Homo sapiens: one gene and its partners. The protein of the gene in region 1 purifies or fractionates together with the protein of each later gene. This does not show direct contact. Each region holds a gene or a part of one and is shown in the gene's direction. Other genes may lie near its edges. The genes, in order: TRPV5, RNF138, NUP35 and ATF1.

Region 1 (7,871 bases):
AAGAACACAGTCCGTGAACTGAATTTCAGGAGAGAAGAGAAGGAATTCAAAGATAGCTGCTAGAGCTGAGGACAAAAAAACAAAACAAAACAAAACAAAAAAAACGCACAAAAAAAAACCAGACACACAAAAAAATAGAACAAAACAAAACAAAAACTCTGAAATTCTTTGGAAGCAAGTAAAAAAAGAAATTTGCTATTATATGATAAAATAAAATTTACCAGTTTCTCAAGAGATAAATGTCAGAAAAGTTTACAGAGCATACCATTTTTTAAGCCAAAAAAGAAAAAAAAAAGTGTTGACTGATGTCTGGTCACAGGTTGTTAGACCACAGAGTTCTCCAGACACACAGACAGAAGCTTCTCTCCTAGTCTCTCTTGGTTCCCTGTGTTAAAAGCACTGCCTCTCACCGGGCAGGTGAGTGTGCTGCTGCAGTAGAGTCTGGAGAGATGCTTACAGGTTCCAGCTGATTAGCAGAGCAGGGATAATTGCCGTTCCTTATGCTAACTAGGGACCACATTCTCCCTGGCTCAAATCATCAGCTTTCCTGCTGGCCCCAGGGGACTCTCAACTCCTTTCTTGGGTGCACTATTTGGAGATGTGACCTTGGACAACAGAGCTCCCAAAAGTCAAAAGGCTGCTTGCATGTGTTGAAATTATTTGTGCAATATCATGTGGGAATTGTCTACATGGGAACACAGTTTTGTAGAAAGAAGATATACAGTTTTTATTATGTTTTCAAGTGAGCTCATAACTTCAAAAACATAAGGATAATTAATGTAGGATTCTAGCACTACATCTGTGATATTGCATAAGTTTCACCGTGAAGTAACATGCATTGAAGTAGGGTGGTCTTCATTCCACCTTGACCCTTGGACTATACCTTCTACAACTACTGCTCAGGATAGGCAGGGACCCTTCCTCATAGTGTCTCTAGCCCCTTCTCTGCTCTTTTCTGTAATGTCAAATCATCATAAAACCACAGTGAATATATCTATAGTGATTTATGATTTATAAAGTTCATGTAAATATATCATTAATGTAAGCTTCACAATGACTCTGGGAGGTAAGCACTGTAGCCTCCATTTTACAGATGAGAAAACTCAAGTTCAGAGATTTTCCATGAATGGTTCAAGGTCTCACTAGAGGTAGTAGATTCCGGATCCGTGAGGGAACCTGAATTCTGTGATATGTTTACAGTGTATTCTTCCCACTAGAAGCCATGATGAGGTTGGAAAAGGTGGACTTTCCACATAGCTGAAACCATCCCAAGCCACTAATACCTCTTCCTGTTAGCTCACTTGATGCGCTGAAATGTGTTCTCAGCTGCTCAGTATATACATCATAAATTTCTGCTTACAGCATCTATAGAAAAGGCGATTTTGCTAGATGGTAGCTCAAGACATTAGCATATGTGACGTCTATTAAACCTTGGATACATAGACTCCTGTCCTGGTCACAGAGTTACCCACAATGGCAAGTACAATGGGGGTGGGGTGATGCTGGTGGGAAGGGGAGTTTCCTTTATTTTGGATGGGCTTTAGCAGCTTTCGATCATTTGCACAAAAGGATTTGACTCTGCCCATCAGAAAGCACTTCTTCTGAATTTCCCCACATAGGAGGCCTATGAGACACGTGAAGATATCATCAGGCTGGTGGGGGAGCTGGTGAGCATCGTTGGGGCTGTGATCATCCTGCTCCTAGAGGTGAGGGGCAGGCGGGGTCCAGGCTAATCCCATCCCATCTAAGGCCCAGACTGTACCGCAGTCCACATTGTATTTTTGCTTTGCCGTCCTCTCCCCAGATTCCAGACATCTTCAGGGTTGGTGCCTCTCGCTATTTTGGAAAGACGATTCTTGGGGGGCCATTCCATGTCATCATGTGAGTATCCCCTCATTCCAGCCCCCTGCCTTTCCTTACCAGAATCTTTTCCTGTCTCCAGCTCACTCTCTGAGTTCTAGGCCTCAGGTCACTCTCACTCCAAGGACTTCTCTCCAGTGGACTTGTAGGTGTAACTGTATGTGCGTTTTAGGTGTAAAGACTAAGCCTGAGTGTGTGGATACCACCCCGGTCACCACTATGCTGTAGGGACCTAAAATAGTTCCAGCTTGTCTCTCACTCTCTGCTTTCTGCTCCCCCAGCATCACCTATGCCTCCCTGGTGCTGGTGACCATGGTGATGCGGCTCACCAACACCAATGGGGAGGTGGTGCCCATGTCCTTTGCCCTGGTGCTGGGCTGGTGCAGTGTCATGTATTTCACTCGAGGATTCCAGATGCTGGGTCCCTTCACCATCATGATCCAGAAGGTCAGTGCTTTCCCGAAGCTTCCTCCGCCTCAGGCACAAGACCTTCACAGACAGAGGGATGGAGGTAGAATGGAGCTGGTAGAACTATGGGGGCCTCTTGATCTGTTAGCGTTAGCTGCTCAAAAGCAGTGGAAAAGGAATCATCCCACCCTTTCTTCCTTCTGTTTCCTGCAGATGATTTTTGGAGACCTAATGCGTTTCTGCTGGCTGATGGCTGTGGTCATCTTGGGATTTGCCTCCGGTAAGGCACCATACACTCCTCTACTAGATCAGCAGATCTAGTTCTCCAGAAAGTTCACTCTCATTCTTGCTCTCAGTTCTCATTTGCACTTCATTTTGCTTTCTTTTTTTTTGTTTGTTTTTTGTTTTGTTTTTTCCTGTTGGAAGGTAAGTCTAAAAGCACACCCATATTTATAGGACCAGGGGCCACTCAGGTTGGCCTGGAACGTAAAGCCATGTGTTCAGGGCCAATAAGATTTATGTTCACTAACTGCCTTGCAAGATCTTTAAAGGAGAGACAGGAAAAGACTTTTGGTGAGAACAGGGCATTAAACAGGAAAGACTGGCCAGTCATGGATCTCAGAAAACCATGTGGACAAACAGAGATAGTGCCATGCTTAACTCTCCTATGTTTACAATTCAGAAGAGGAAACCTAAAGCACTCAACAACATATAACTTGCTTTTTTTCTATATGTGGTCATTTAAAGCTGAGAAAAATATGAAAGAATTAGAAAAAGGAGGTGCAGAAAAACAGCTTGGACAGTTTGAAGATGACAGAGAAAACAAAAAAGAAGAGTTGTGAAGAGAGACTGGGAGAACAGGAACACACAGGCACCCAGTCAAGGCACAGCCAGTGAAAGTGCCAGGGAGCAAAAGAAAGGAACGGCACAGCAGGAAAACACAGGCAGGTGGAAACAGCCAGAGGGAAGGAGAGGGTGGGTGGAGGAGCAGAAGAAAGTCCTTAGGGAGGGGCAGAAAGAGGAAGGCCCAGGTCTGAAAAGCAAAAGGCCAGTAGCTCAAATTCAGTCCTCAGTGTCTGCAACTGACCATCTATTAGACAAGAAGAGGCACTAGAAGGATCCCCCCATCTCTAAAAAGCAATGACTCAGTGCAGAGGACTCTATTACTGTCCTCAGGGATTTCCCGTTCAATGGGGATTCCCACAAAACAACAGACCAAAACAAAAAACAAACAAAACAAAACAACAACAACAAAACCCCCACCAAAATCTGAAATGTGAAAGAGTAAAACCATGGCGTTCTGCCTGTTTGGAGTTTTCCACCCCAAGCCCTTATGTACCCTTTCCTCCCACTCCCTGGCCATCTACATCTATACATAACACAGATTACAAAATGAGGTGATGGTCCCAGAGTGGCTTTCTGTAGATGTCCTCTATCCAGAACTCTCTAAATGTTCACTTCTTGGCCATTGCACTTGCTTTTCTCTTAAATAAATAAGGAGGCAATGCTTTGTCATAGACCCTGTTTCTGCTCTCAGAATGTGCTTCAGCTCCCTATGCAGTGAGGAGGCTTTCAAGCAGTCCAGCGCTGTCCTGAAGTTCCCTTACGCTCACTGCTATCCAGTAGGCTCCACCCTAAGCAGGAATCCGTTTCCTATGTTGGTTCAGGTTCACTCAGGGAAGGTCAGAGTGATGGAGGGTTATCTAGAGGCCATCAAGATTAAAAAAGGGGCTCTTCTTTTAGCCTGTTCATGTGTTCTGTTCTTTAAAAATTGTTGAGGATTCCATACATTCTTGTAATAACTTGCCTTTTAAGTATTTGGTTTTCTAAAATGCAAAAACCAGTTAGGTGACCTATTATCCATTATCCATACAAACACACACGCTGCACACACAATTTTGTTGTTGTTAAATGACTATTACCATGACCATTACCCAGAGTGGTGAACTTAATCATAGGACATCTTAGGGTTAGACAGTTCCACAGGAAACTACATTTATTAGTATGTAATTATCTGTGCATGTGTGCAAGTGTATTTAGATAGATAGATAGATAGATAGATAGATAGATAGATAGATAGATCAGAGATAGAATAAGTGCTAACCATGTCCATGCTTATTGTGATAACTCCATTATCCCATCTCCATGTCCTCTTCCTGGGCGGAGCAGCGTTCTATATCATTTTCCAGACAGAGGACCCAACCAGTCTGGGGCAATTCTATGACTACCCCATGGCACTGTTCACCACCTTTGAGCTTTTTCTCACTGTTATTGATGCACCTGCCAACTACGACGTGGACTTGCCCTTCATGTTCAGCATTGTCAACTTCGCCTTCACCATCATTGCCACACTGCTCATGCTCAACTTGTTCATCGCCATGATGGGCGACACCCACTGGAGGGTGGCCCAGGAGAGGGATGAGCTCTGGAGGGCCCAGGTGAGTTTATTTGTGTTAGTCTTGCTAAGAAGCAGGGGTTGGAGAGAAAAATCAAAGTGGAAAATGTTATGGTGGATCATTCTTAAAAGAGTCACAGAAAAACCCAGTGAGGCTGTCACCTCAGAAGAGGTTTGTGTAAACCTGAGGTACATGTGGATAAATGGAAGGGACAGAAGGAGGATTAAATGGACGATAGTGGCAAGAGGTGGGGTTGTTGCTCACAGGGGAAAAGTAGACCTAGGATTGATCCTTGAGTCCAGTGGGAACTAGAAGTGACCTTGTTCTGGTATATTCCAGTTTTCAATTTGGATCTTATCTTCTATTTGCTTCTGTAAATCCCTGTTTCTCTATGATCTTTTCTTTATATCACCATAGACTGATAAATATTAGAATTAGAAGTGACCCTCAATGGCCCTCAAGTTGACCTCCTACTTAACATAATAATCATTTATTGGTCAGAATGTCATTCAATATCTTCTCTAATGCTGATTAGTACCTTATTATCTTGCAAATTCAGGTAGAGGTTGGGAGGAAGGGAGTTTTCCCATATTTTTAAAGATTTTGTTATTAGACATTTATGTCGCATTGAGCTAAAACCTATCTTCTTAAAATTTCATTCTTTGGCGCCAGTCTTTCCCTCTCATATATCACAGAACACATTCTTCCATATAAGCACCATTCAAATATTTGAATATAGCCATCATTTTTCCCTTAGACTTTTCATTCATTTAATGATGATCATTTAGACCCTGCTATGTGTTGACAAATGCCTAGGAGCTAGGGACATGAGCATAAACACAACAGACACCATATGTGCCCTCATGGAGCTGACGGTTTAGTTGGAAAGACGGGCATGAAGTGAATGACTTCACAAAAAGCTGTAAAATTACAGCAGCAAAAGTGCTATAGAGAATGTAAGGTGCTAAGAGGAGGATACAACAGAGGAATCGGACTGGGAAGTGAAGACATGCTTTCCTGAGGGAGCAACATTTAAGATGAGAACCCAAAGGTGAGCAAGAACTAGGTAGTTAAAAGGAAGGAGGGAAAAGGATGAAGGTCAAGGTTAGTAGCAATTAGGACTCTTGGCTACAGGGACAGAAAACCAAACTCAAACAGACTTGCAGATTTTTAAACAGGGGGAAGAGGATGTGTTAGTCCTCATAAATGGGAAGTTTAGAGAATTAAACTAACTTTAGAGGTATCTGGCCAGAATGCAGATCCACATCTTATACATTACATCCATTCCTCTGTTCGGCTCTCTTTTGACCTCTCTTCTAAGGCAAGCTCTCCCATCGTGTTTGTGAGATCATTTCTAGAAGCTCCAAACTCCAAAAAGAATGAGGATGTGCAATGCAACACGCAGCTCCGAGGGCCCCACTCACGTTGTATTCTGTGAGGCTCCTGGTGCCAGGCAAAACTGCAGGCTTTAAAAGAACATCTTTCCCCCTGCCAATTCCTTCCATGTTCCATCTCATGGGAACACATTCGGGTCATAGGCACATCGTTGAATCTAAGGAAAGACCAAGGACTAGATAGTGGAGGTGTTGGTGATGGTGGTGGAGGGGAGGTTTGGGGGAAAATAGATTAATTAAGCACAACTGTGTGAAGCCCAGTCCACTCAAACCAATGCACTAAAAGTGATGAGGGAGCAATTCCCTAAATGAAAAATGGGTGCTGTTACCCGAGGAAGGACGGGGCTGCATGATGGCTCAGGAGGAACAATAAACATTTCTTTCAAGGCAAAGAAGAACAGCTATCCAGGGTAAGAGCACAGAATGACTGGAAGTCCTGAGCTAGGAGGGAACTTGGTGCAATTAAGAAACTGAAAGAAGTGTGGAGTAATGAGGAAGATAGGGAGTAGAAAAACATGAGGTGAAGAATTTGCTATTTTGAAGATTGCACTCCTTCAATTAGGAAGCCTTCCTGGTTCTGATCTATTCTGATTGCACCCTTTTGTCCATGCTCTAATAGATCATGGTTTCTTTGAAACTAGAATAGTCCCCAGTATGATTAGGGCAATGCGGTACAAAGCGGGACTATGCCTTTCCTTACTTGGACATAATGCTAAGGGTACCTAAAGCTGAGTCAGGTCTTTTAGCAAATATACAAATGGCCCTTATTAAGCTTGTGATCAGCTAGCACTCCCACACCTTTGTTCTATGACTCACTTATCTAAGCTTCCTAAATGTAAATATAGGACCTTAGATTTGGTTTACTTAAATTTCTTGTTAATGATTTTACACCAGCATTCCAATCTAGCGAGATAATTTTATATTGCTTCTGTTGCCCCACATATTACATATCCCTCCCAGTTTTGTGTCACAGGCATATTTGATAAGCTTGTTTCCCATGTTTCATCTAAGTAATTAATGAGGGCTGAGCAAAGGACAGAACGTGTGGTGGACTTGCTACCAGAAATTTCCCTGCCAACTTGCAGTCATTAATCAACCCTTTTCCTTCCTAAGATGTGGATATTTAATTTGCTGAAAATTCCCTGAACAGTAACAGTATCAATTCATCCCCAAGATCGTAGAGATTCTCTTTAATCATTTTATTTAAATCGAGATAATTGGTCTGTGGCTTTTATATGAAAAAGAAGTTGAGATTAGTTTGGAGTGACTCATTCTCCATGAGTGAATAGTAATGTAAGGGCAACTATTTTATTCAAAACACTCACAAAAAATCCTCTCTCATTTCTTGATGAGTGAAGCTGGTTGCATGGTGCCTGGCACAGGCTGTGGGGTGAATAGGTGGCTGTTCTCACCACTGACCTCTAGTGTCCTATCTCACAGATTGCCTTTGGTTCCCTTTATCAGTGGCCTCAGTGCCTCTTTGAACCTCATGGCTCTTTCAGAGTTCTTCCTGTATCTCCTGCCTCCTTCCAGGTCGTGGCCACCACAGTGATGCTGGAGCGGAAGCTGCCTCGCTGCCTGTGGCCTCGCTCCGGGATCTGTGGGTGCGAATTCGGGCTGGGGGACCGCTGGTTCCTGCGGTGAGTGATGGTGTGCACATGCAAAACTGCAGATGTGTATAAGGCCACGGAAGCAAGGGTGACCGACAGGCGTCCTGGAGCCTACATTAGCCTGTCTAGGGGAGGGGGCTGGAGCTGAAGTGGAGGGGTACGAAGAATGCTGTGTGTACCTCAGGGCAGCCACGTGTAAAAGG
Region 2 (8,366 bases), on another chromosome or scaffold:
ACGGCCAATCTAGGGAAGGCTTGGAAGCTCTGCACCTCTTCCCCCATACCTTACCCTATGCGTCTCGTCATCTGTATCTTTTGCAATATCCTTTATAATATACCAGTAATCGTGTTTCTCTGAGTTCTGTGTGCTGCTTCAGCTTCAAGTTGCGGTTCCCAGAGCCCACTCTTTCGGTTTCATTAATTTGCTGGAGCAATATCCTTTATAATACACCAGTAATCATGTTTCTCTGAGTTCTGTGCACTGCTCCAGCAAATTAATGAAACCCAAAGAGTGGGCTATGGGAACCGCAACTTGAAGCTGGTTGGTCGGAAGTTCTGGAGGCCCGGACTTGTAAGTGGTGTCTGGGGGTATGGAAGCCAGTCTTGGGAACTGGGCCCCCAACCTGTGGGATCTGACACTGTCTCTGGGTAGGTAGGAACTGAATTAGAGGACACCCATTTGCTGTCTGCTGCTTGGTGCATGGGGAAAACCCCCCACATATTTGTTCACAGAAGTCTTCTTCTGTGTTGATTGTTGTGGTGCGTGAGAGTAAAGGTAAAATATGGTTAGAGTTTTCCCTACACAATTGGTTATTGTGGAGGTTAAAGAACTCCATCATGGATGTTAACATGCTAGGTTGACTTCTGATTAACCCCAGTTCCAGGAATGCCCCTAAGAGTTCTTCTTTATGATTCCTTGTGTAAAAAGAGCATGGTCTTAATCATAAATCCTGCCCTTAAGCAAATTATAGGCTGTAATGCACATAGTATTCTTGTCTTTCCCTCAGGGGTGAACTTTAATTTTCCTGCACATTATGTATACCCTTTCCTTATGGTCTGCAGGATAACAATACGAAGATCCACCTGTCTTGCTGCTGCCCAAGACCACACTTCCATCCACAAGTTCCCCAGTAAATCACCTGCTACCAGCAAACTGGATTTGTTTGCCTCTTCTTTGGATTTTTGGCTTCTTCTGCATTTGAGAGTCACTTTGCATATATAGCCCTTTCATGGAACAGTTGTGTATGTACATAGTCAAGAGTAATATTTAGCTAATATTTGCTAAAATAAAAATATTTAGCAACTGGAACCAAATTGGCACTGGTCATTCAGGACAGACTACTCACCAGTCAGGATGGACAAGGCTGAAAAAGACTAGGAAAATGGTACTGGTACAAACCAGCTGAGTGTCAACACTGCACATGGTAGCAATTTACAAAGATACCAAAGGGTAGAGAGTGAAACATGAGCCTCTCTCCTGTTCCATCCTCCAGCTTCCCAGTTCACTTCTTCAAAGGCAATCACTTTTACCAGCAAAACAGGATTTTGAAGGTTTGTAGTAAGATAAAGCCAGGCCTTGTCAAGAAATCAGTATTCTAAATTATTTTATTTTTCTCTTTTGCATATCAAGATCCATCGAACTTGACTGGAGAGTTTTATTTACTTATTTTGATTTTTTATTTTTTGAGACAGAGTCCCGCTCTGTCACCCAGGCTGGAGAGCAGTGGTGCCATCTCAGCTCACTGCAACTTCTGCCTCCTGGGTTCAAGCCACTCTTCTGCCTCAGCCTCTGGAGTAGCTGGGACTATAGGCATGCATACCATGCCCGGTTAATTTTTGTATTTTAGTAGAGACAGGTTTCGCCATGTTGTCCAGGCTGGTCACGAACTCCTGACCTCAAGTGATCTGCCTGCCTCGGCCTCCCAGAGTGCTGGGATTAGGAGCATGATCCACCACGCCTGGTCTTGACTGGAGAGTTTTAGAGCACCCAATCAGCAAGAAGTGGCAAGGGGAAAAGTCCATTCCTTCTAATCCAAGAGACTGTAGGAGAAGAAACAAAGTAGGGGCTTCATTCTGGGGGGGAAAGGTGGTTTAGATGGGTTGGAGTGTGTGCCCTGGAAGCACATGGCCTTACAGGCTGTTCAGAACCAGAGGGAGAACCACAAAGGATGTCATAGACAGTAGTTGTGTTGAGAGCCAGAGAGCCTGCTAAGGAGCCTGCCATGTTGAGGGTTAAGGAATTGGAAGGTGATCGTGGCAGGAATCAGAAGGTTTTACAGTGTTGGTGAAGCTAGGACATATCTCAGGGCCTTGGCCCAGCTGAGAGACAGGTCCGAGCAATCTTCATCAGCAAGTTTCAGCAAGAGAACACCCAGGACACATTACATCTCAAGGAGCAGAGAAAATTAGTCTGGCTAAAGAAAATCCGGCAAAAATGCAAAAGAGAACTTGCAGATTTCAGGAGCCAGATTCCCCTATAGTGCCTTGAGTTCATGTCAGCTACCCATCATCCTCCCTTCCCTTCTCCCAAATGCCATTCTGAGGGAAGCCCACTGAGAGGGACTGACTGGTTTAACCCAAACTTAAAGGAACTGTTTAAATTATTGCAGCACAGTTTACCAAATCGGTCTACATCTAGGGTTTTCCCTTCTAATGACCAAAGGCTGAGGACATTTTATTTACGCAGCTGAATGTATTTTGAGTAAATCTATGACATTCTTATAAAAATATCAAGTAGCTTTTCACCAGAAATGTTGCCAAGAAAGAAGATTGTGTCATTGGTAATTGCAACTTATTTTTTTAAGCTTAACTTTCCAAGGGTATCTATATTTTTCTTATGTCCAAGTTTTTGCTGGATTTCCACATATTGCCAGCTATATGCTTACGTGTATACCGAATGACTTATTAGAATATATGGGGGAGTGATACAAATATGTTTGGATTAGACATAAGTAAAGCTGCCGTTGCAGAGAAAGAATGAAGCAAATAAAATTAGGGTCACAAAATTAATGTTATGGTTAGATATTCCCAATGAATAATGGGAAACACTATTATACAGAAAATACACCTTACTTCCTAAATGGTCAGAATGAATGAAATGAGTGGAATTATCAAAAAAGTAAAATGTAGGCCAGGCACAGTGGCTCAGGCCTGTAATTCCAGCACTTTGGGAGGCCAAGGTGGGCGGATCGCTGGAGGCCAGGAGTTCGAGACTAGCCTGGCCAACATGGCAAAACCCTGTCTCTACTAAAAATGCAAAAATTAGTTTGGCATGGTGGTGCATGCCTGTAATCTCAGCTACTTGGGAGGCTGAGGCAGGAGAGTTGCTTCAACCTGGAAGGCGCAGGTTGAAGTGAGCTGAGATCATTCCACTGCACCCCAGCCTGGGTGACAGAGTGAGATTCTGTCTCAAAAGAAAAAAGAAAAAAAGTGAGTTTTCTTCTCTGGGCTGTTAAAAATTTGAACTCAAAGAACCATTTTATAAGTGAATGTGAAAAGCACCTGAACTACTGCTATTAGCTGCCCCTCTCGTCACGTGCTCTTCCTCCTTCCAGGAAATCTGAAGCTAGTATTAGCTTTCTTGTCTTGCTTCCACTGCGCTTGCTGCTAAGGAGGAAAAGCAACAAAAATACAAAATATAGTTTGGTAGAGGGAATTAGCTATTCATTGGACAAATTATTATTATTCTAGGAATCAATGCTTTTGAGATGTACATTAAAACCCATTTCCTCCATAAAGTTTTCTGTTAACTCTATATATTTCTAATCATTCCATTTCCTATCCTCATTATAGCCATCGTTTAATGCAAAATTTAATACTTTGGCAAATACCATTTTTTCTCTCTCATTCTGATAGATATGTAATAATGTAAACAGGTTGAGAGCAAAGTTCATGACATCTGCATAACACCTAACAATGCCAATGTCAACATAGACAATAAATGGCAGAATTGATTTAAATAGTCCCTTAAATGGCTTCTGTTTATTCATTTAGACCATGGGGGAGGGTTTTAACAAAGGATGGTAATAAAACCTTTCTTTTCTCTGAAGCTAATTGTAGATGCTGTATAATGTTCCAGATTTTCCTTAGCTTCTTTCACGTCATTGTGGATCCCATCTTATCGATTTATCCTTTTTTTGTTCTTCTTTTTTTTTGAGAGTCTCACTCTGTCGCCAGGGCTGGAGTGCAGCGGCGCGATCGCGGCTCACTGCAACCTCTGCCTCCCGGGTACAAGCGATTCTCGTGCCTCAGCCTCCCGAGTACCTGGGATTACAGGCTCCCACCACCATGTCCGGTTAATTTTTGTATTTTTAGTAGAGATGGGATTTCATCACGTTGGCCAGGCTGGTCTTGAACTCCTGACCTCAAGTGATCCAACCGCCTTCGCTTACCAAAGGGCTGGGATTACAGGTGTGAGCCACCGCGCCCGGCCTTTTTTCTTTCTTTTTTTTTTTTTTTTTTGAGACGGAATCTCACTCTGTTACGCAGGTTGGACCATCTTATAGATTATCAATTGTACAGATAATTGCACTCCGGCCTGGGAGACAGAGTGAGTACCTGTCTCAAAAAATAAAATAAAATAAAATAAAATTAAAAAAAACACTTAAATTAGTGAATAACCTTGGTGAAAAGCCACGTCCATGCTTCTACGGCATTTCTCTTCAAAGCTAAAAAAAAAAAGAAAAAATCAAAAATCAACCCAAAGGTGTAGTAGAAGACTGCATCTGCGACCGTATTTAAGCATCGGTCATGCTGTTAAAGGAGAAAGTGGACATCCTCTCAAGGAAACTTTAATCCTGCCCCCAAAGGATTAAAATCCCGTAACAAATATTTGTTTATAACACATCTTGACAAGATCAAAACATTCTGGTAGGGCAAATAGTAAAGACTAAATCTTGAACATTGACGAAAACTTCCTGAAAGGCCCAATGTATTTGACAGGAGAGGTAACTGGGGTCCCGGGCCTAGCGAGGCGGGGCGGGGAGGCGCAGGTGTCACCGCGGGCGCCCAGCTGCTTACGTCACAACCCGCGGAAGGCGCCGTGCGCCGGTTGCTATACAGGCCGCACTTCACACCCCGTGCCTCCCCGCCTCTCCTGGCTCCTCCGCCCAGATCCCCGGCGCTCCCGCGTTCGGTGACGGCCGGGTAGGCTGTAGGCAGCGCAATGCCAAGACAGAGCTGCTGGCGGCGGCGGGCGAATCTCCCTGCACCATGAGCCTCGGCTCCGGCCCCGTTAGGGGCCGATAAGCACAGCGCACGCCGCCCTCCATTTGCCCCGGGGCCTCGGCTGCGAAGATAGCGGCGGCCGGACAGGAAGCTCGAGGAAAGCGCTGGGCCGGGTCTCTACGAACACGTGAAGGAAAAGCAGCTCCGTCCACAACGCCGCTTCGGGGCTCCTAGGTGAGAGTCTCCCCGGCGGAAGCGTGGAGGGGCCGGGGTGCCGGGAAGCGGGGCGGGGAGGAAGCCGCGGACACGGGCTGGGCACTCGGGGCTCGGGGTCGGGGTGAGTAGAGGCGGAAAAGCAGTGAAAAGGGAGGCCTTGGGCGAAGACGGGGGCTGAGGGCGGGGCGCGAGCCCGCGCCTGGAGCCCGGTGAGGGCGTGGCCTAGAGCGTGAGGCCGCGTCCTGGGGCGGGGTGAGGGGCGAGCGGGGCGGGCCCACGGCATGCTGCGAGCCCAGCCTCCCGCCAAGCACCGTCCCCCATCCAGCCCCCTGTGGGAGGAGCCGTGGGAGGGGTCGCCTCTTGCCCGGCGCGTGCGGCAGTAGCGTCTCTGCGTTCGGCCCCGCCCTACCCAGGGCCCCGCCCCCTTCCTGGCGCGCGCTGTATCCTGATGCGATCCCCCTCCCCCCTCCGGGTTCATGTAGGGAGTCGGGCCCCGGGCCGCCACCGTCACCTCGGCCGCTGCCGCTGTCGCCATCGCCTTGTTTCCCCATCCCCCGCCATGGCCGAGGACCTCTCTGCGGCCACGTCCTACACCGAAGATGATTTCTACTGCCCCGTCTGTCAGGAGGTGCTCAAAACGCCCGTGCGGACCACGGCCTGTCAGCACGTGTGAGTAGACGCCCCCTCCCCCTCGCGGAGCCGGGTTGTCGCTTAGGCCCGGCCTCCGGCCCGGGACCCCGGGCTGCCGCCTGGCGGGAACCGAGCCCGCCGCGGCCTGCCCGAGCGTCGCTGCCCCGCGAGGTCCCGTTCCCCGCCCCTCAGAGTCCCGGGGCGGCCTTTTCCTCAGCCTCGGGGCCCGCTCCCCGCGTCCAGCCCCCTCAGCCCAAGCTCCCGCTCTCCCGCTCTCCCGCTCTCCCGCTCTCCCGCTCTCCCTGGCTTTCGCGCCCCCGGGGCAGTGGCCAGGCCGTTCCCTGCGGCGTCTTCAGGCCCCGGAGGCCCCTGTCGTCTCCGCCAGGCCCGGGAGGAATTGCAGGGATCTTGGAGCCTTTTTGTTTCTTAGCAACCCGGGTGAAGGCTGGGGTGTCGAGTGTCAAAAGCGGCCGGCGGTGCTCGCGCGGGCCCGCTCGCCCCGCGACCTGCCCTGCTTTCAAGTTTCCTCTTTCAGAACCTTGGTCCGTCCCCTCGGTCCAAGAGCTCTTCTGTAACTTCCCCTCAACCCTGCTTCACAGAACACCCTCGAGAGCGTTTTGTTTCGTTTCCAGTCCACTATGTGTTAGAGGGATCTAGAATGAGTTTTCTTCTCTGGTCTCTTAAAACTGACAGGATTTTCGGGCATTGAAATGAGCGTTCCCCTTTGTTTTACCTTTCTGCTTACTTATTACTTGATTAATACAAGGGTGGAGAGGAGAAAGGAAGACTTCTGTTATGAGGAATGAGCCGAAATTGAGATGCTACCCAGGGTGGGGGAGAACACAAAGGGGTTGGGTGAGATAACGCATGCGTTTGATTGGCAGGCATATTTACAAGAACTTTGATAAAATTTTATGGACAGCTAGGGTGTGAGTAAGGGTTGGAAAGAGCCCTTGTTGAGAAGGTGTATAGCCCTTCTGACAGACCTGACTGATGATCAGAGTCCCCGGGGAACTTTTTAAGTAAACATACCAATTCCCAGGCTCCATTTCAAACTTAACAAAAGAATGTTCGGGCAGGTGGGGCCTGGAAATCTTTATTTATTTATTTATTGTATTTTTTTTTAGTAGAGACGGGGTTTCACCGTGTTAGCAAGGATGGTCTCGATCTCCTGACCTCGTGATCCTCCCGCCTCGGCCTCCCAAAGTGCTGGGATTAAAGGCGTGAGCCACCGCGCCCCGCCCGGAAATCTTTATTTTTAAAAAACACACTCAGGCTTGAAAGTTACGTGTGTTTGCAAACAACTGAAAAGAATTGACCAACCTTCTAAATGTATTTCATTCTCCTTCGACTTTTTTTTCTTTTTTTTTTGAGGTGAGGTTCTATAATTTTGTAAAGGATGGATTGAATTTTTGGTTCTTAATTGCAAATGCCCTTACTGTGGCTGTTTTCTTGATACCAACTCTTCTCATTTTTTCCCCAATCTTAACTGCACTGTCTACTTTATTTCTATTTTGTGCTGGTTGTGTGAGCCAAGAGTGTGTGGATTTTCATGATAGAAATTATGCCAGTTACGCTTTTGCTCTTTAAGGGAGATGAATGACATCTTGTTATTTTGTGCAACAAATGCAGATTCTTAGGGAAATGTTTTGAGGGATCCTTTTGCGGTTCATAGTGTGATGATTGAGTGTTCACAGGCATGTGTGAGATATGCCATCCTCAAACCTTGTTACAGGGTCAGCACATTACCCATCTGACATGAAAAAAAAAACGTTTGGAGGTGTCTAGGGCACAATATAGATCTTCCACCTTTAATCTAGCATAACTTGGTCCCTTTCCAATATTTAAAAAAAATTTAAGTGCTGTGTTGGCATTGGGTAGATAAAAGGGAGGGAGGAGAGCAAGGTGAGAGGAAGTTGTAATAGCTGCTAACTATATATATATATATAAAGCAGGTCTTTTTTGGATAGAATCATTCTAATTATCCTTTGGGTCATTGACCTAATGGGCCTCATTGTAGTTTTTAGCACTCCCCAAAATTCCGTGTAGATTGCTCTAGTCCGCTTCCCTTGTGGGACATTTTAAATCAAGGTTTATAATTTGATTTGACCTCAAGACTGTGGAAAATGTTGGAGATGATTGTTTTTAATTCAGGACCTTTCTCAAATCAACTTATTGTACGTAGACAGTTCTGCCTGAACAATGAATTAAAAGAATAGGCAGAGGGAGAAAAAAAGTTTAATTTGGAAGAGGTGGTAATGGAGGAACAGGATTTTAATCAGTTGGAAGGAGTTTAGTGGGGGAATTGGAGAGAAATTTTAAAAATTATCGTTTTTTTTTGAGACATGGTCTTATTCTGTTGTCCAGGGTGGAGTGCAGTGGTGTGATCATGTTTCATTGCAGCCTTGACCTCCCCCGTTGGAGCAACCCTCCCGCCTCAGCCTCTCAAGTTGCTGGGACTACAGGAGCATGCCTCCATGCCTGACTAATTTTGTTTTCTTTTTTATAGAGACAGGGCCTCACTACGTTGCCCAGTCAGATCTTGAACTCCTGGGCTGAAGTCATCCTCCTGTCTTGGCCTCCAAAAGT
Region 3 (7,871 bases), on another chromosome or scaffold:
GATTACATTTTTGATTTGGTTCTCAGCTTGAATGTTATTGGTGTATAGAAATGCTACTGATTTTTGTGAATACTTTTTTAAGCACTCGCTTATGAGTGAGCATATGTGATGTTTGTCTTTCTGTGCCTGGGTTGTTTCACTGAAGATACTGACTTCCAGTTCCATCCATGTTGCTGCAAAATTGATTCCTTTCCTTTAAATGGCTGAATAATATTCCGTTGTATATATACACCACATTTTCTTTATTCATTCACCCATTGTTGAACCCTTAGTTGATTCCATATCTTTGCTATTGTGAATAGTGCTGTGATAAACTTATGAGTCCAGCTATCTTTTTGTTATATTATTTCTTTTCGTTTGGTTAGATACCCAGTAAGAGAAATTGTTGGATTGAATGGTAGTTCTATTTTTAGTTCTTTGAGAAATCTCCATATGGCTTTCTATAGAGGTTGTACTAATTTACGTTCTCACCAACAGTGTATGAGTTCTCTTTTCTCTGCATCCTCGCCAGCATCTGTTTGTTTTTTTGTTTAACAATAGCCATTCTGACTAGGGTAAGGTGATGATGTAGTTTTGAATTGCATTTCTCTGATGATTTGTGATGTTGAGCATTTTTTCATATACCTCTTAGCCATTTGTATGTCTTTTGAAAAATGTCTATTCATGTTCTTTGCCCACTTCTTTAACAGGTTATTTTTATCAAATATATCTATAGATATATTTCGAGATGGAGTCTTAAACTCTGTCATTTAGGTTGGAGTGCAGTGGCATGATCTTGGCTCACTGTAACCTCCACCTCCCAGGCTCCAGTGATCCTTCCATCTCAGCCTCTCAAATAGCTGGGACCACAGGCACACACCACTACGCCCAGCTAATTTTTTGTATTTTTAGTAGAGATAAGGTTTTGCCATGTTGCCCAGGCTGGTCCTGAACTCCTAACTTGGCCTCCCAAAGCGCTGGGATTACAGTCACGAGCCACAGTGCAAAGCCAAGCTTTTTATCACAGTAGCTTTTCCCCCCACCTTCTATAGATAATCTTTTTTGTTTCTTAAGAACATACTTGGAGAAATCCATGTGACTATAAACACTTTGGAATGAGTTAGGATGGTTTTCAACTCATTTGGGAATTAAGGATAAATGGCAAGTCAGGAGATACATACAATAGTTAGAATATGTTAAGTAGCCTCTAGAAAATCAATAAAAATGGAGCATGACTCATGCGCATTGACCTGTAGAACAGTGGTTCTCAAATGTCTTAGTTTTGTAGTTTTTACCTTGTTTATACTCTTAAAAATTAAAGAGCTTTTGTTTATATAGATTATAGCTATCAATATTTACTGCATTCAAAATTAAAACAAAATTTAAAATTTAAGTATTAACTCATTTAAAAATAAAGCTATTTCATATAAACATAATCTTTTTTGAAGTGAACAGTAACTATTTTCTAAAGAAAAAAAGATTTGCAGGAAGAGTGACATTGTTTTTGTTTTAAAAATCTTTTTAGTGTCTGGCTTAATAAAATACCTGTGAATTCTCATGAATCTGCTTCTCTTTTCAACCTGAGTCTGTTGAATCACATGAAGTTGCCTCTGGAAAACTCCACTGTACACTAATAAGAGACTGAGAAAAAGGCAAATGAAACTTCATGTTTTTGTGAAAATAATTTTGAGTTGGCTGATCTCATGAGAGAGTCCTGGGGGAGCCAAGAATCTCCAGACCACACTTGTAGTACTGCCACAGGAAATAAACATGTTAACTAGATTACTGCCTCAGAGCTCATGCTTTGGATTCCGATTGCCTGGATTGGAATTCCAACTAACCTTCTGGATGTTATTTAATATTATCCTGTTTCCTAATTTGTTAAATGGACTAATTGGACCTTTTGTAGGATTGTTAGAATTAAATAAAATTACACTCGTAAAGTGTAATAATCACTTAATAAAATGCTACCTTTTTTTTAATTTTTTTATTTTTTTGAGACAGAGTCTCTCTGTCACCCAGGGTGTAATGCAGTGGTGCTATCTCAGCTCACTGCAACCTCCGCCTCCCGGGTTCAAGCGATTCTCCTGCCTCAGCCTTGAGAGGAGCTGGGATTACAGGCATGCACCACCACACCTGGCTAATTTTTGTGTTTTTAGTAGAGATGGGGTTTCACCATGTTGGCCAAGCCAGTCACAAACTCCTGACGTCATGATCCGCTCGCCTTGGCCTCCCAAAGTGTTGGGATGACAGGTGTGAGCCACTGGCCTGGCCCTTAAAATGCTACCTTTTACTATCAAAGTTTTAGTCCTGTTATGTCACGCTTGCTCAGATTTTTCTGTTGGTTTTCTACCTCGCTTAGAGCTTTAGCTTTTACAGTGGCTTTATAAGGTTTTTCTTCATGATCCGGCATATTGCTGCCTCTCTGCTCGCATCTCCTTGTTCTCATCTCACATCCCCCTCACTGTGCAAACAGTGGCCTTCTTGCGTTCATCTAAGACCAATCATGTCTTTCCTCATGGCCTTTGTTTTATTATTTTCTCCACAAAATGTTCACTTCTTCAAATATTGTTTTGCTTCCCTTGTCCTTCAGGTTTTTGCTTTAATGCACCTCAGTGAAATCCTTTTTCATTTAACCCACCCACACAAATTGGCCCTGTCTCCCTTCTCTGCTTTATTTTTTTTTCTCTGTAGGATTTTTAGTTTTGTAGCACATTAAGTATTTACTTATTTGTCTCTCTTTCGCTAGAATGTAGGCTCCAATAGGGATGGATTTTTTGTTTTTATTTGTCTAATGTGTTTACTGCTATACCTTCAATACCTAGGTTGATGCTTGGTGCATATTTAAGTGCTGATAAAATATGTTTTGAATGAGTAAATCATTATTGCTACTGTGAAGATGAAAGGGAAATAGTCTTTGCTTCTCTCAAATGTATAGCCTTAATTGGACATTGCTTCTGATATAAAATGAACTTTATAAAGTGTTTAGCATGGCATGTTGGACACACAGAAGTACTCAATTGGTGGCTGTTACTGAAGAATAAGAAATAAAAGGATAAGACATTTTAGAAAGAAATGACCTGAATAAAAGAAAATTGCATTCACATTTTAAGGGGTAAGGTAGATATTGTTTAGTGCATACTGGAAAAGTAAGGTTGCAACTGTATAGCTGAGGCCAAGGCATTCGGATTTTGTTCTGTGGGTAATACATTTTTACATGTTCTTAAGGCAGAGGTGCTGTGATGAAAGTGGTAGGTTTGGAAGATGAAACCAACAGAAGTCTTTGAGGTTGCCTGGGATATCCTTCTGGTGTCAGCTTAACCAGACATGCTTAATAAAACATTTAGATAATTTATCATACATAATAAAACATTTGCAGAATTATAAACTATGCCCAATTATTACTTCCTCTAATTGTATGGTAGCATGAAATTGCTATTTGACCACAGTTGTATGTTTTGAACTGTTTATGTAATTGCCAACTTTATTAGACTTTATCATTTAAAACTAAGATTTTTGATTTAGAATCAATCGAGGTGTTTACACTGGCAACTAACTTGCTAAATATACTAATATAGGGCAAAGTATGTTTAGTCCAGCAAGTATCGGTCAGCCACGAAAGACGACATTATCTCCTGCCCAGTTGGATCCTTTTTATACTCAAGGAGATTCTTTGACTTCAGAAGATCACCTCGATGACTCTTGGGTGACTGTATTTGGGTAAGGTTTGCAGACCATTTGCCTTTTAAAAACCCCACCCTAACATTTTATAATGAATATAATCAAACATACAGTAAAATGGAAAGAAGTGCATAGCAAACACCCATATTACTACCACCTAGGTTCTATGGTTAACAGTTTGCTACATTTGCTTTGTCATTTATCCATCTATCAATTCATTCTTTTTGTTGGTACATTTCATAATAAGTTGTAGACATCAATACATATTACCCTGACACTTGAGCATGCATGTCATTAACTAGAGTTTGATATTTGTTTGTAGTTTTTTAAATCATTTGTCTGTTTATTTCTTCCCAAATTATTTTCTCTCAAGCATATTTACTAGATGGAACACAGTTGTCCCTTTAGACTTAGGGAACTCCTTCCCCTTTTTCTAGTGACTGGTTCTCTACATCTAGTGGAATTCACCAGTTTTGAATTAACAGAATGAACATTTACAAACACACACACACACACACACACACACACACACACACACACACACAATGTCACAGGGTTGATACTTTCTGGTCCACAAAGTATTGAATATTAATAGAAACAGTATGACAGTCCTTGTTACATTTTTGAATAGATTTTTAGGTCCAAAAAAAACTTTAAAATGCCTTTTTTTAAAAAAAATGCTTTTTTATTTCCATAGGTTTTTGGGGAACAGGTGGTATTTGGTTACATGAGTAAGTTCTTTACATGATTCGTGAGACTTTGGGGCACCCATCTCCTGAGCAGTAGGCACTGAACCCAATTTGTAGTCTTTATCCGTCACCCCTTTCCCACCCTTTCCCCCGAGTCCCCAAAGTCCATTGCATCATTCTTATGCTTTTGCATCATCATAGCTTAGCTCCCACTTATGAGTGAGAACATATGATGTTTGGTTTTCCATTCCTAAGTTACTTCACTTAGAATAAGTGAGTTACTTTACTTAGAATAATTTGCAGTCCCATTCAGGTTGCTGCAAATGCCATTAATTAATTCCTTTTTACTGCTGAGTATTCCATTTTGTATGTATATATATCTATCACAGTAAAACTCCTTAGAGATCATATTGTATAATGTTTTATTTTACAGGTGAGGAAACTGAGGTGTAGGCAGATTAAGTGATTTATTCAGCCGTTCACATCTAGTTATTATTAGCAAAGCTCCAGCAAAAACTTGGGTCTTTTGATATTCAAGCTGATATTTACACTCTACAAAAATATAAAGTTTGTTTCTGAAAGTATGATTTGCCATACTGTATTAGTCCCTATTCATACTGATAAAGACATATCCGAGACTGGAAAGAAAAAGAGGTTTAATTGGACTTAGGGTTCCATGGCTGGACAGGCCTCAGAATCATGGTGGGAGGTGAAAGGCACTTCTTACATGACGGTGTCAAGAGAAAATGAGGAAGAAGCAAAAGCGGAAGCCCCTGATAAACCCATCAGATCTCGTGAGACTTATTCATTATCATGAGAATAGCACAGGAAAGACTGGCCCCCATGAATCAATTACCTCTCCCTGGGTTCCTCCCACAACACATGGGAATTCCGGGAGATATAATTTGAGTTGAGATGTGGGTGGAGACACAGCCAAACCATTTCATTTCATCCTTGGCCCCTCTAAATCTCATGTCCTCACGTTTCAAAACCAATCATGGTTTCCCAACACACCCCTGAAAGTCTTATTTCAGCATTAACCCAAAAGTCCACAGTCCCAAGTCTCATCTGAGTTAAGGCAAGTCCCTTCCACCTATGAGCCTGTAAAATCAAAAGCAAGATAGTTATTTCCTGGATACAGTGGGGTTATAGGAATTGGGTAAATACAGCCATTCCAAATGGGAGAAATTGGCCAAAACAGAGGGGTTATAGGCCCCATGCAAGTTCAAAATCCAGAGGGGCAGTCAAATTTTAAAGCTCCAAAATGATCTCCTTTGACTTCCTGGTCTCACATCCAGGTCACGCTGATGCAAGAGGTGGGTTCCCATGGTCTTGGGCAGCTCCACCCCTGTGGCTTTGCAGGGTACAGCCTCCCTCCTGGCTGTTTTCCCGTGCTGGCATTGCGTGTATGGGTTTTCCAGGCACAGAGTGCAAGCTGTCAGTGGATCTACCATTCTGGGGACTGGAGGATGGTGGCCCTCTTCTCACAGCCCCACTAGGCAGTGCCCTAGTAGGGACCCTGTGTGGGAGCTTTGACCCCACAGTTCCCTTCCGCACTGCCCTAGCGGAGGTTCTCCATGAGGGCCCCACCCCTGCAGCACAATTTTGCCTGGGCATCCAGGTATTTCCATACATCTTCTGAAATCTAGGTGAAGGTTCCCAAACCTCAATTCTTGACTTCTGTGCACCCACAGGCTCAATACCATGTGGAAGCTGCCAAGGCTTGGGGCTTCCACTCTCTGAAGCCACAGCCCAGGCTCTACATTGTCCCCTTTCAGCCACGGCTGCAGGGGCTGGGATACAGGGCACCAAGTCCCTAGGCTGCACACAGCACAGGGACCCTGGGCCTGGACCACAAAACCGCTTTTTCCTCCTGGGCCTCCAGGCCTATGATGGGATTGGCTGTCTTGAAGGGCTCTGACATGCCCTAGAGACATTTTCCCCATGCTCTTGGGCATTAACATTAGGCTCCTTTCTAGCTATGCAAATTTCTGCAGCTAGCTTGAATTTCTCCTCAGAAAATGAGTTTTCCTTTTCTACTGCGTTGTCAGGCTGCAAATTTTCTGAACTTTTATGCTGTGTTTCCCCTTTAAAATGGAAGGCTTTTAATAGCACTCAAGTCACCTTTTGAATGCTTTGCTGCTTAGAAATTTCTTCCACCAGATACCTTAAATCATCTCTTTCAAGTTCAAAGTTCCACAAATCTCTAGGGTGGGGCAAAATGCCACCAGTCTCTTTGCTAAAACATAACAAGAGTCACCTTTGCTCCAGTCGCCAACAAGTTCCTCATCTCCATCTGAGACCACCTCAGCTTGGAACTTATTGTTCATATCACTATCAGCATTTTTGTCAAAGCCATTCAACAAGTCTCTGGGAGGTTCCAAACTTCCCACATTTTCTTCTGAGCTTTCCAAACTGTTCCAACCTCTGCCTATTAGCCAGTTCCAATGTCACTTCCACATTTTTGGGTATCTTTTCAGCAATGCCCCACTCTACTGATACCAATTACTGTATTAGTCCATTTTCATGCTGCTGATAAAGACATACCTGAGACAGGGAAGAAAAAGAGGTTTAATTGGACTTACAGTTCCACATGGCTGGGGAGGCCTCAGAATCATGGCGGGAGGCAAAAGGTACTTACATAGTGACATCAAGAGAAAATGAGGAAGCAAAAGCGGAAGCCCCTGATAAACGCGTCAGATCTTGTGAGACTTACTCACTATCATGAGAATAGCATAGGAAAGACCAGCCACCATGATTCAATTACCTCTCTCAGGTCCCTCTCACAACACATGGGAATTCTGGGAGATACCATTCAAGTTGAGATTTGGTTGGAGACACAGCTGAACTGTATCACATGCTGATACTGGAATGTATCTATTATATATTTTTTGGGATTAAAAAACATAAAAATAACACATGAGCTCCTTGAAGGAAGAAAGGTGCATAGTAAATGTTTAGTGGATTTTATGTATTCAATTTATTTAAAATTAAAAATTCAAAAGGTATGTAAGAATGTACAATGAAGTTTTCCCTTTTGCTTTTGTCCCAAGCTAGTTTTCCTCCTCTTTAAGGCAGTGATTGCCATCTGTTTTTTGTGTATGTTTCCAGAGAGATTTTATGTGTTATTGATTTCTATTTGGGTAAAAAGCGGGTCATTGCATTCCGTTGTTCTCTAGAAAGTCCATACTCAGTCCTATATCCATAGCAATTGGGCTGGTGTGTTTTTTTTCTTCTTCTTCTTTTACATTTACATTTTTATAGTCTCTCATAAAATGGCTTTTTTTTTTTTTTGAGACAATCTCTCTGTTATCTAGGCTGGAGTGCAGTGGCATGATCATAGCTCACTGCAGCCTCCAATTCCTGGCCTCAAGCAATCCTTCTACCTCAGCCTCATGAGTAGTTGGGATAACAGGCATGAGCCAGCTTGGCTGCATGTTTTTGAAAATAGGTACCCACTCTTAAATCTGTTTTTCAGGCTCAGTAGTAGTGGTTTAACTTTTAAGATTTCCAGTAATTAGA
Region 4 (7,871 bases), on another chromosome or scaffold:
AAAATATTTAAAAAAAAATTGAAAACAACTTGTTTTCTCAATTGTAAAATATTGCTATAACTTGCATATTATATTGATGTAGTTTATAAAAATTAACATTGTATGCATGCCAAGTGTTGCATGTATTAACTTGTGAAATGAGATAAAATTGAATCATACAGATTTTAAAATGGCATATATTTATACCTGCCATTGCCAGTGACCTCCACCTTGCTAAATCGAATGGTCTGTTCTCAGTCTTTATTTTATCTCAGCTTGTAAACAGCATTGGACATGGTTGATCATTCTTTTCTCCTCAGTATGCTGTCTTCACTAGTTTTCCATGGACAGCTCAATCATTTGGTTCTCTTCTTTACTGGTGACTCCTTAGTCTCATTTGCTGGTTCCTCCTCTTCATCCAGTCTCTTAGTGTTCCTGAGGTTAGTCCTCAGTCCTCTTCTATTTACCCCTATGAGCTCATCCAGTCTCATGGCTTTAAGGACTCTAAAAAGCTAGACCTCCAAAATTTATGTATCTAGCCCAGACCTCTTCCCAGACCTACAGGCTTGTATATTTAATATTCGTCTCAATGTCAGCAGTTGAATATATAACAGGTTTTTCAAACTTAGCATGTCAGGTAGATTAGTAATAAAACAACACTTTTAAGTAATGTGCATCAGTGTAGAAATAGGGTGGAGAATGACATCAGAGCCTGGTCTTTTTAACTCTGGTAAAATAGTACTGCTTCATTTGGGGGACAGACTTTATTCTCAGCTCTGGGCCTGCTATATTTGATATTCCTTTAATAGGTTGGGCTCCTGGAATAAACTTTCTCATTTTTCCTTTTCCTTTTGTTCCTTTCTTTTAGACTTTAGATTTAATGTACAAATGAATTGGAGTGGCAGGAGACAGATCATTTTTTTCTAAAAGTAAAAATTCAGTTGTTTCTTTTCCCACCTGCATTGTTCATCATGTTAATGCCAGTTCTTTTTTAGGTATCATCTTTATCAGAAAGTGAGGAGTCCCAGGACTCATCCGACAGCATAGGCTCCTCACAGAAAGCCCACGGGATCCTAGCACGGCGCCCATCTTACAGGTGAGTACTCTCTTGTATGAAGCCCTGCATGTTATGATAGTACCAAATGAGTTCAAGAGGTGCTGTGCAAAGTACACTAAAGAAGTTAGCACGCGTCAGTGTTAAGAATGAAATTGGTTGGCCCTCGCCTATAATCCCAACCCTTTCGGAGGCCGAGGTAGGATTGCTTGAGCCCAGGAGTTCAAGACCAGCCTGGGCAACATGGCAAGACCCTGTCTCTTCAAAAAATACAAACCTTAGCTGGACATAGTGGCGCACGCCTGTAGTCCCATCTACTTAGAGGCTAAGGCGGGAAGATGGCTTGAGCCCAGGAGTTTGAAGTTACAATGATCTGTGATTGTGTCACTGTGCTCCAGCCTGGGTGATAGAGCAAGATCCTGTCTCCAAGAAAAAATGAAATTGGACCTTTGGCCGGATGCAGTGGCTTATGCCTGTAATCCCAGCACTTTGGGAGGCTGAGGCGGGCAGATCACCTGAGGTTAGGAGTTTGAGACCAGCCTGGCCAACATGGTGAAACCCCGTCTCTAATAAAAATAGAAAAATTAGCCGGGTGTGGTAGTGCACACCTGTAATCCCAGCTACTTGGGAGGCTGAGGCAGGAGAATCACTTGAACCTGGGAGGCGGAGGTTGCAGTGAGCCGAGATTGTGCCACTGCACTGCAGCCTGGGCAACAGAGCAAGACTCTGTCTCAAAAAAAAAAAAAAATGTAAATTTAATCTTTATCTTACACCATTACACAAATCAACACCAAATGGATAAGAGACCTAAATGTTAAGACCTGAAACCATAAAAATCCTAGAAGAGAACATAGGCGATAAGCTCTTCGACATTGACCTTGGCAATGATTTTTTGGATATCACACCAAAAGCTTAGGCTACAAAAAAATAAATAAATGGGACTACGTCAAACTAAAAAACGTGTCTGTGTAGCAAAGGAAACAAAGCAACAAAATGAAAAGGCAACTTACGGACTGGGAAAAAATTATTTGCAAACCACTTATCTGATAAGGGGTTAATACCCGTAACTGAAGACAAAATGAGAGAACCTGAGGATACAGCTCTGAGTAGATTACCTAGAATGGAACACAGAAAGACAAAGTTAAGATAGAACACAGAATGAGAAGGTCCAGTACACAACATACATAGATAAAAGGAGAGAAGAGGGAAGGGCACTTCCAGCTTCTAGTCTCTCCAGGAGAGAAAATGATAATGACTGCAATTTCCAGGATATGAATTTCTCAGCATAAGAAAGCAAGGTCCCAAACAAGATAAATTAATAGAAACCTACATCTAGGTGTATGTTGTAAAGTAAAACTGGAGAACACCAAGGATAAACCTGAGATCTTAAAAGCTAAAAGCTTCCAAGTGAAAAGACCAATTACCTAGAAAGGAAGGACCAGTAAGCTGACAACAGATTTTTGAAGTACAGTATAAGACAATGAACTAAAATCCTTATTTTTATCTTTAAATTATTACATGTTTTTTTGAGACGGAGGTCTCACCCTGTTGCCTGGGCTGGAGTGCAGTGGTGTGATCACAGCTCACTGCAGCCTCAACCTCCTGGGGTCAGCTCCTCAGCCTCCTGAGTACCTGGGACTATAGGCATATGCCATGATGCCCACCTAATTTTTTTTAATTTTTGGTAGAGATAGAGTCCCACTATGTTGACCAGGCTGGTGTCAAACTCTTGGGCTCAAGTGATCCTCCCACCTCAGCCTCCCAAAGTGTTGCTATTACAGGCATGAGCCACTGTACTCAGGCTCCAATATTTAAATTCAAAGAGAAAGTAACTTTTGACCTGGAATTCTGTGCCTACTGAACAGTCTTTCAAAAATGACGGTGAAATAATAATCATTTTCAAACTGATTTAAGAAACTACTTAAGGAGGCTGGGTACAGTGGCTCACGCCTGTAATCCCAGCACTTTGGGAGGCCGAGGCGGGTGGATCACTTGAGGTCAGGAGTTCGAAACGAGCCTGGCCAACATGGAGAAACCCTATCTCTACTAAAAATAAAAAAATTAGGTAGGCATGGTGGCACATGCGTGTAGTCCCAGCTTGAACCCAGGGGGCGGAGGCTGCAGTGAGCTGAGATCGTGCCACTGCACTCCAGCCTGGGTGACAGAGTGAGACTCCATCTCTAAAAAAAAAGAAAAAAGAAACTACTTAAGTGTATACTTCAGGAAGAAGAAAATGAAAGGAATATAAATGTGAGAAAGTATGGTGAACAAAGACAATTCATTTCAGTTAGCATTGGCTTTTTAGAACAATAGTAATAATGATTAATTTGGGTAGTTTCATGGTTGTTGTTTTTTTTTTGAGATGGAGTCTCGCTCTGTCATCCAGGCTGGAGTGCAGTGGAGTAATCTCGGCTCACTGCAAGCTCCGCCTCCTGGGTTCATGCCATTCTCCTGCCTCAGTCTTCCGAGTAGCTGGGACTACAGGCGCCCGCCACCACACCTGGCTAATTTTTTGTATTTTTTAGTAGAGACGGGGTTTCACTGTGTTAGCCATGATGGTCTCAATCTCCTGACCTCGTGATCTGCCCACCTTGGCCTCCCAAAGTGCTGGGATTACAGGCGTGAGTCACCATGCCCAGCCTGAACCTGAGATTTCTTTATTAAGTAGGGGTCTCTCAGGAAGGCTATAACATCTGAAAAGAAACTTCTCAAAGTTAAGCTTTCTGGATTGCCACAGATTAGTATAAATCAAATACGAATTCACTCAAAAATCATCAAACGTGCAAGGACATAAACCACGTAAGTGAGAATTGGCAGAAACAATACAGTCAACTCAATAAATGCTGGGAAAAAAAGTATTTGATTAAATCCAGCACCTCATACATTTCTACCAAAAATGAATAAAAATGGGCTTCCCTAGCATATGTAGACTTTTAGAACTTAACTATGTATAGGACAGATCACCATTGCCCAAATTCTAGACTGGCCACTACCTGGTGCACATGTGTAATAGATATGAATAGCATTGCAAAGACTTTGGAAACTGAACTGACATTGGAACCACAACCCACAGAAGGCTGATCAGAACTTGTGGCCTGGACACAACCAGATTGATACCTTCTAAAACAAGAATATAGTCTAGGTCTGTGGCTCATGCCTGTAATCCCAGCACTTTGGGAGGCTGAGGTGGGAGGACTACTTGAGTCCAGGAATTTAAGACCAATCTGTGTAACATAAGGAGATCCTGTCTCTACAAAAAATACAAAAATTAGCTAGGTATGGTGGTGTGTACCTGTAGTCCCAGTTACTCAGGAGGCTGAGGGCAGAGGATCACTTGAGCCCAGGAGGTTGATGCTTCAGTGAGCCATGATTGTGCCATGCACTCCAACCTGAGTGACAGAACGAGTCCCTGTCCCAAATACACACATGCACATGCAACAAGAATATAAAACATTTTTTATTAAACAAGACCCAGAGTCTGATAGCATAATATTCAAAGAGTCCAAAATTACTTGGTATCAAAGAACAAGGAAAAATCTCAACTTGCACGGGAAAAGACTGTTGACAGAAGCCAACTCCTAGATGATACAAATGTTGGAATTATATGACAAGGACTTTAAAGAAGCTATTATTAAACTGTTCCAACAAGTAAGTGAATTTTCTTGAAATGAAAGGTATAAACTCTCGGCCAAAAATAGAGCATATAAAGAGAATAAAATAGAGATTTCAGAGCTAAGAAACACAGTAACAGAGATAAAACCTCATTGGATGGGTTCAATAGTAGAATGGAAATGAGAGAAAAAACGATCAACTTTGAAGATTATTCAATGGATATTATCCAATCTGAACATAGAAAAGAGATTGGAAAATTATCTAATTCTCAGCGACCTGTGCGACAATAATTAAAGATCTAAGATTTATGTCATTAGAGTCTCAGAAAGAGAGGAAAAAAGTATAGCGCAGAAAAAATACTTGAAAAAATAATGGCTGAAAAATTACCAAATTTGGTGAAAGACGTAAACCTACAGGTTCAAAAACCTCAGCAAACTCTAAACAGGATAAACACAAATAAATCATTGCCCAGACTTACCATAATCAAACTGCTGAAAGCTAAAGTTAAAGAAATCTTGTGAGTAGCCAGAGAATAATGGCACATTACTTACAAGAGAACATTGTGAATGACTACAGAGTGCTCATCAGAAACTATGGAGGTGAGAAGATAATGGAATAGCATTTTTAAAGTGCTAAAAGAAAAAAGAATTATCTCCTGGGTCTTGGCACCCAAAATTCTATGTCTACTGAAAACATCCTTCAGACTTGGAGGTCAAATAAATATTCTCATCAAGGGAAACTAAGGGAAATAATTGCCAGCAGACCTGCTGTAAAACAACTGCTAAGAAAATTCTTAAGACGAAAGAAAGTTAAGGAATGAAGAAACAGCAACAGAAATATCTGGGCAAATATAATGGACAGTTCCTCTCCTATTGAATTCTTTAAAATAGGGGTCCCCAAACCCCAGGCCGTGGATTGGTACCTGTCTGTGGCCTATTAGGAACCAGGCTGCACAGCAGGAGGTGAGCAGCGGGTGAGCGAGCCTTAGCACCCAAGCTCTGCCTCCTGTCAAATCAGTGGCATATTAGATTCTCATAGGAATGTGAACCGTGTTGTGACCATGCGAGGGATCTAGGTTGCATGCTCTTCATGAGAATCTAATATCTGATGATCTGAGATGGAACAGTTTCATCCTGAAACCATCCCCTGACTTCCCTATCCATGGAAAAATTGTCTTCCACGAAACTGGTCCCTGGTGCCAAAAGGGTTGGGAACTGCTGCTTTAAAATATATTTGATGGCTGGGCGCGGTGGCTCATGCCTGTAATCCCAGCACTTTGGGAGGCTGAGGCAGGTAGATCACCTGAGGTCAGGAGTTTGAGACCAGCCTGACCAACATAGCAAAACCCCGTCTCTATTACAAAGATAAAAACTTAGCTGGGCATGGTGGCAGGCGCCTGTAATCCCAGCTACTCGGGAGGCTGAGGCAGGAGAATCACTTGAACCTGGGAGGTTGCAGTGAGCCGAGATCATGCCACTGCACTCCAGCCTGGGCGACAGAGCGAGACTCTGTTTCAATCAATCCATCAATCAATTTGATGGCTGAAAACAAATTATGAAATTCTGATGGGGTTTTTAATGTGTGCAGAGGTAATATATAAGACATCTACAACATAAAGAGGGAAATATAAACAGTTCTAATATGGTGGTAAGGTTTCTACATTCCACCTGAAGTGGTAAAATAGTGATTCTATGTAGACTATAAAAAGCTAGGTATCTATATACCCCTAGAGCAACTACTAAAAAAAAACTACACAAAAAGATTTAGTCAAATATACAGTTGCTTAAAAATTAAATTTTGAAAAGTCTTCAAATAATCCAAAATAATGCAGGTGCAGGAACACAGAAGAATTTTAAAAACAGAATAAACAGAAAGCAAATAATAAAGTGGAAGATCAGCCAATACTGAAGATGGCCTACACTCACCAATTAAAAGGCAATTGTAAAACTAGACCAATATCCTTCATGAATATAGACACAAAAAATCCTCGACAACATATTAGCAAACCAAATCCAACAACATGTAAAAGGTAGTATATGCCATGACCAAACAGGATTTATCCCTGAAATGCAAAATTGGTTTAATAATTGAAAATCAATTAATGTAATACATCATATTAATAGAATCAAAACAAAAAACATATGATCATCGCAAGACACAGAAAAAGCATTTGACAAAAATCCAGTTACCATTTCATGATAAAACTGCTCAACAAATACATAGAAGGCTGCTTCCTCAACCTAATAAAAAGGGTCTACGAAAAACCCACAACTAACATCCTAATAAGAAAATAATGTGGATATCCCCTCTCACCACTTCTAAACATTGCACTCAGGGAATTAGTCAATAAATTAAATAAAAGGCATCCTGATTGGAAAGGACTAAGTAAAACACTTTGTACATGACAGTATCTTATATATACAAAATCCTAAAGAATTATTAAAATAGAACTAATCAACAAGTTCCAGCAAGGTTGTAGGATATAAGATCAATATAACAAAAATCAACTGTATTTCCATATACTAGCAATGACTAATCCAAAAATGAAACTTAAAAACAATTCTATTTACAATAACAAAGTATAAAAGGTTTAAAATTAAATTTATAAATTTAAATTATACTTAGATATGAATTTAACAAAAGAAACAGAACACATATACTGGAGGCCAGGCACAGTGGCTCATGCCTGTAATCCCAACACTTTGGGAGGCCGAGGCAGGCGATCACCTGAGGTCAGGAGTTTGAGACCTGCCCGGCCAACATGGTGAAACCCCATCTCTTCTAAAAATACAAAAATTAGCCAGGCCTGGTGGCACGCGCCTGTAGTTCCAGCTCCTCAGGATGCTGAGGCGGGATAATCGCTTGAACCTGGGAGGCAGAGGTTGCAGTGAGCTGAGATTGTGCCATTGCACTCCAGCCTGGGTGACAAGAGCAAAACTCCATCTCAAAAAGAATACATATACTGGAAACTATAAAACCTTGTTGAAAGAAATTTTAAAAGATCTAAGTAAGGCTGGGAGCGGTGGCTCACATCTGTAATTCCAGCACTTTGGGAGGTCAAGGTGGGGCAGATCACGAGGTCAGGAGTTCGGGACCAGCCTGGCCAATATGGTGAAACCCTGTCTCTACTAAAAATACAAAAATTAGCTGGGTGTGGTGGCCCGCACCTGTAGTCCCAGCTACTCGGGAGGCTGAGGCAGAAGATTCACTTGAACCCAGAAGGCAG

What was found.
Region 2: the proteins of TRPV5 (region 1) and RNF138 purify together in Homo sapiens (affinity purification with mass spectrometry; 3 studies listed by BioGRID and IntAct, with this or other methods). This does not show direct contact.
Region 3: the proteins of TRPV5 (region 1) and NUP35 purify together in Homo sapiens (affinity purification with mass spectrometry; 3 studies listed by BioGRID and IntAct, with this or other methods). This does not show direct contact.
Region 4: the proteins of TRPV5 (region 1) and ATF1 purify together in Homo sapiens (affinity purification with mass spectrometry; 3 studies listed by BioGRID and IntAct, with this or other methods). This does not show direct contact.

The regions. Positions count from the first base shown.
Region 1 is NC_000007.14:142,909,317-142,917,187, reverse strand, and holds part of TRPV5 (transient receptor potential cation channel subfamily V member 5), read left to right. Parts: intron 1-1,619; coding exon 1,620-1,706; intron 1,707-1,804; coding exon 1,805-1,881; intron 1,882-2,141; coding exon 2,142-2,307; intron 2,308-2,481; coding exon 2,482-2,548; intron 2,549-4,437; coding exon 4,438-4,706; intron 4,707-7,591; coding exon 7,592-7,698; intron 7,699-7,871. UniProt on the Homo sapiens protein: Constitutively active calcium selective cation channel thought to be involved in Ca(2+) reabsorption in kidney and intestine. Required for normal Ca(2+) reabsorption in the kidney distal convoluted tubules.
Region 2 is NC_000018.10:32,087,071-32,095,436, forward strand, and holds the start of RNF138 (E3 ubiquitin-protein ligase RNF138), read left to right. Parts: upstream 1-4,803; 5' UTR 4,804-5,165; intron 5,166-5,617; exon of another isoform or gene 5,618-5,629; 5' UTR 5,630-5,706; coding exon 5,707-5,816; intron 5,817-7,433; exon of another isoform or gene 7,434-7,536; intron 7,537-8,366. UniProt on the Homo sapiens protein: E3 ubiquitin-protein ligase involved in DNA damage response by promoting DNA resection and homologous recombination.
Region 3 is NC_000002.12:183,147,951-183,155,821, forward strand, and holds part of NUP35 (nucleoporin NUP35), read left to right. Parts: intron 1-3,557; coding exon 3,558-3,699; intron 3,700-7,871. UniProt on the Homo sapiens protein: Functions as a component of the nuclear pore complex (NPC).
Region 4 is NC_000012.12:50,794,935-50,802,805, forward strand, and holds part of ATF1 (cyclic AMP-dependent transcription factor ATF-1), read left to right. Parts: intron 1-963; exon of another isoform or gene 964-974; coding exon 975-1,075; intron 1,076-7,871.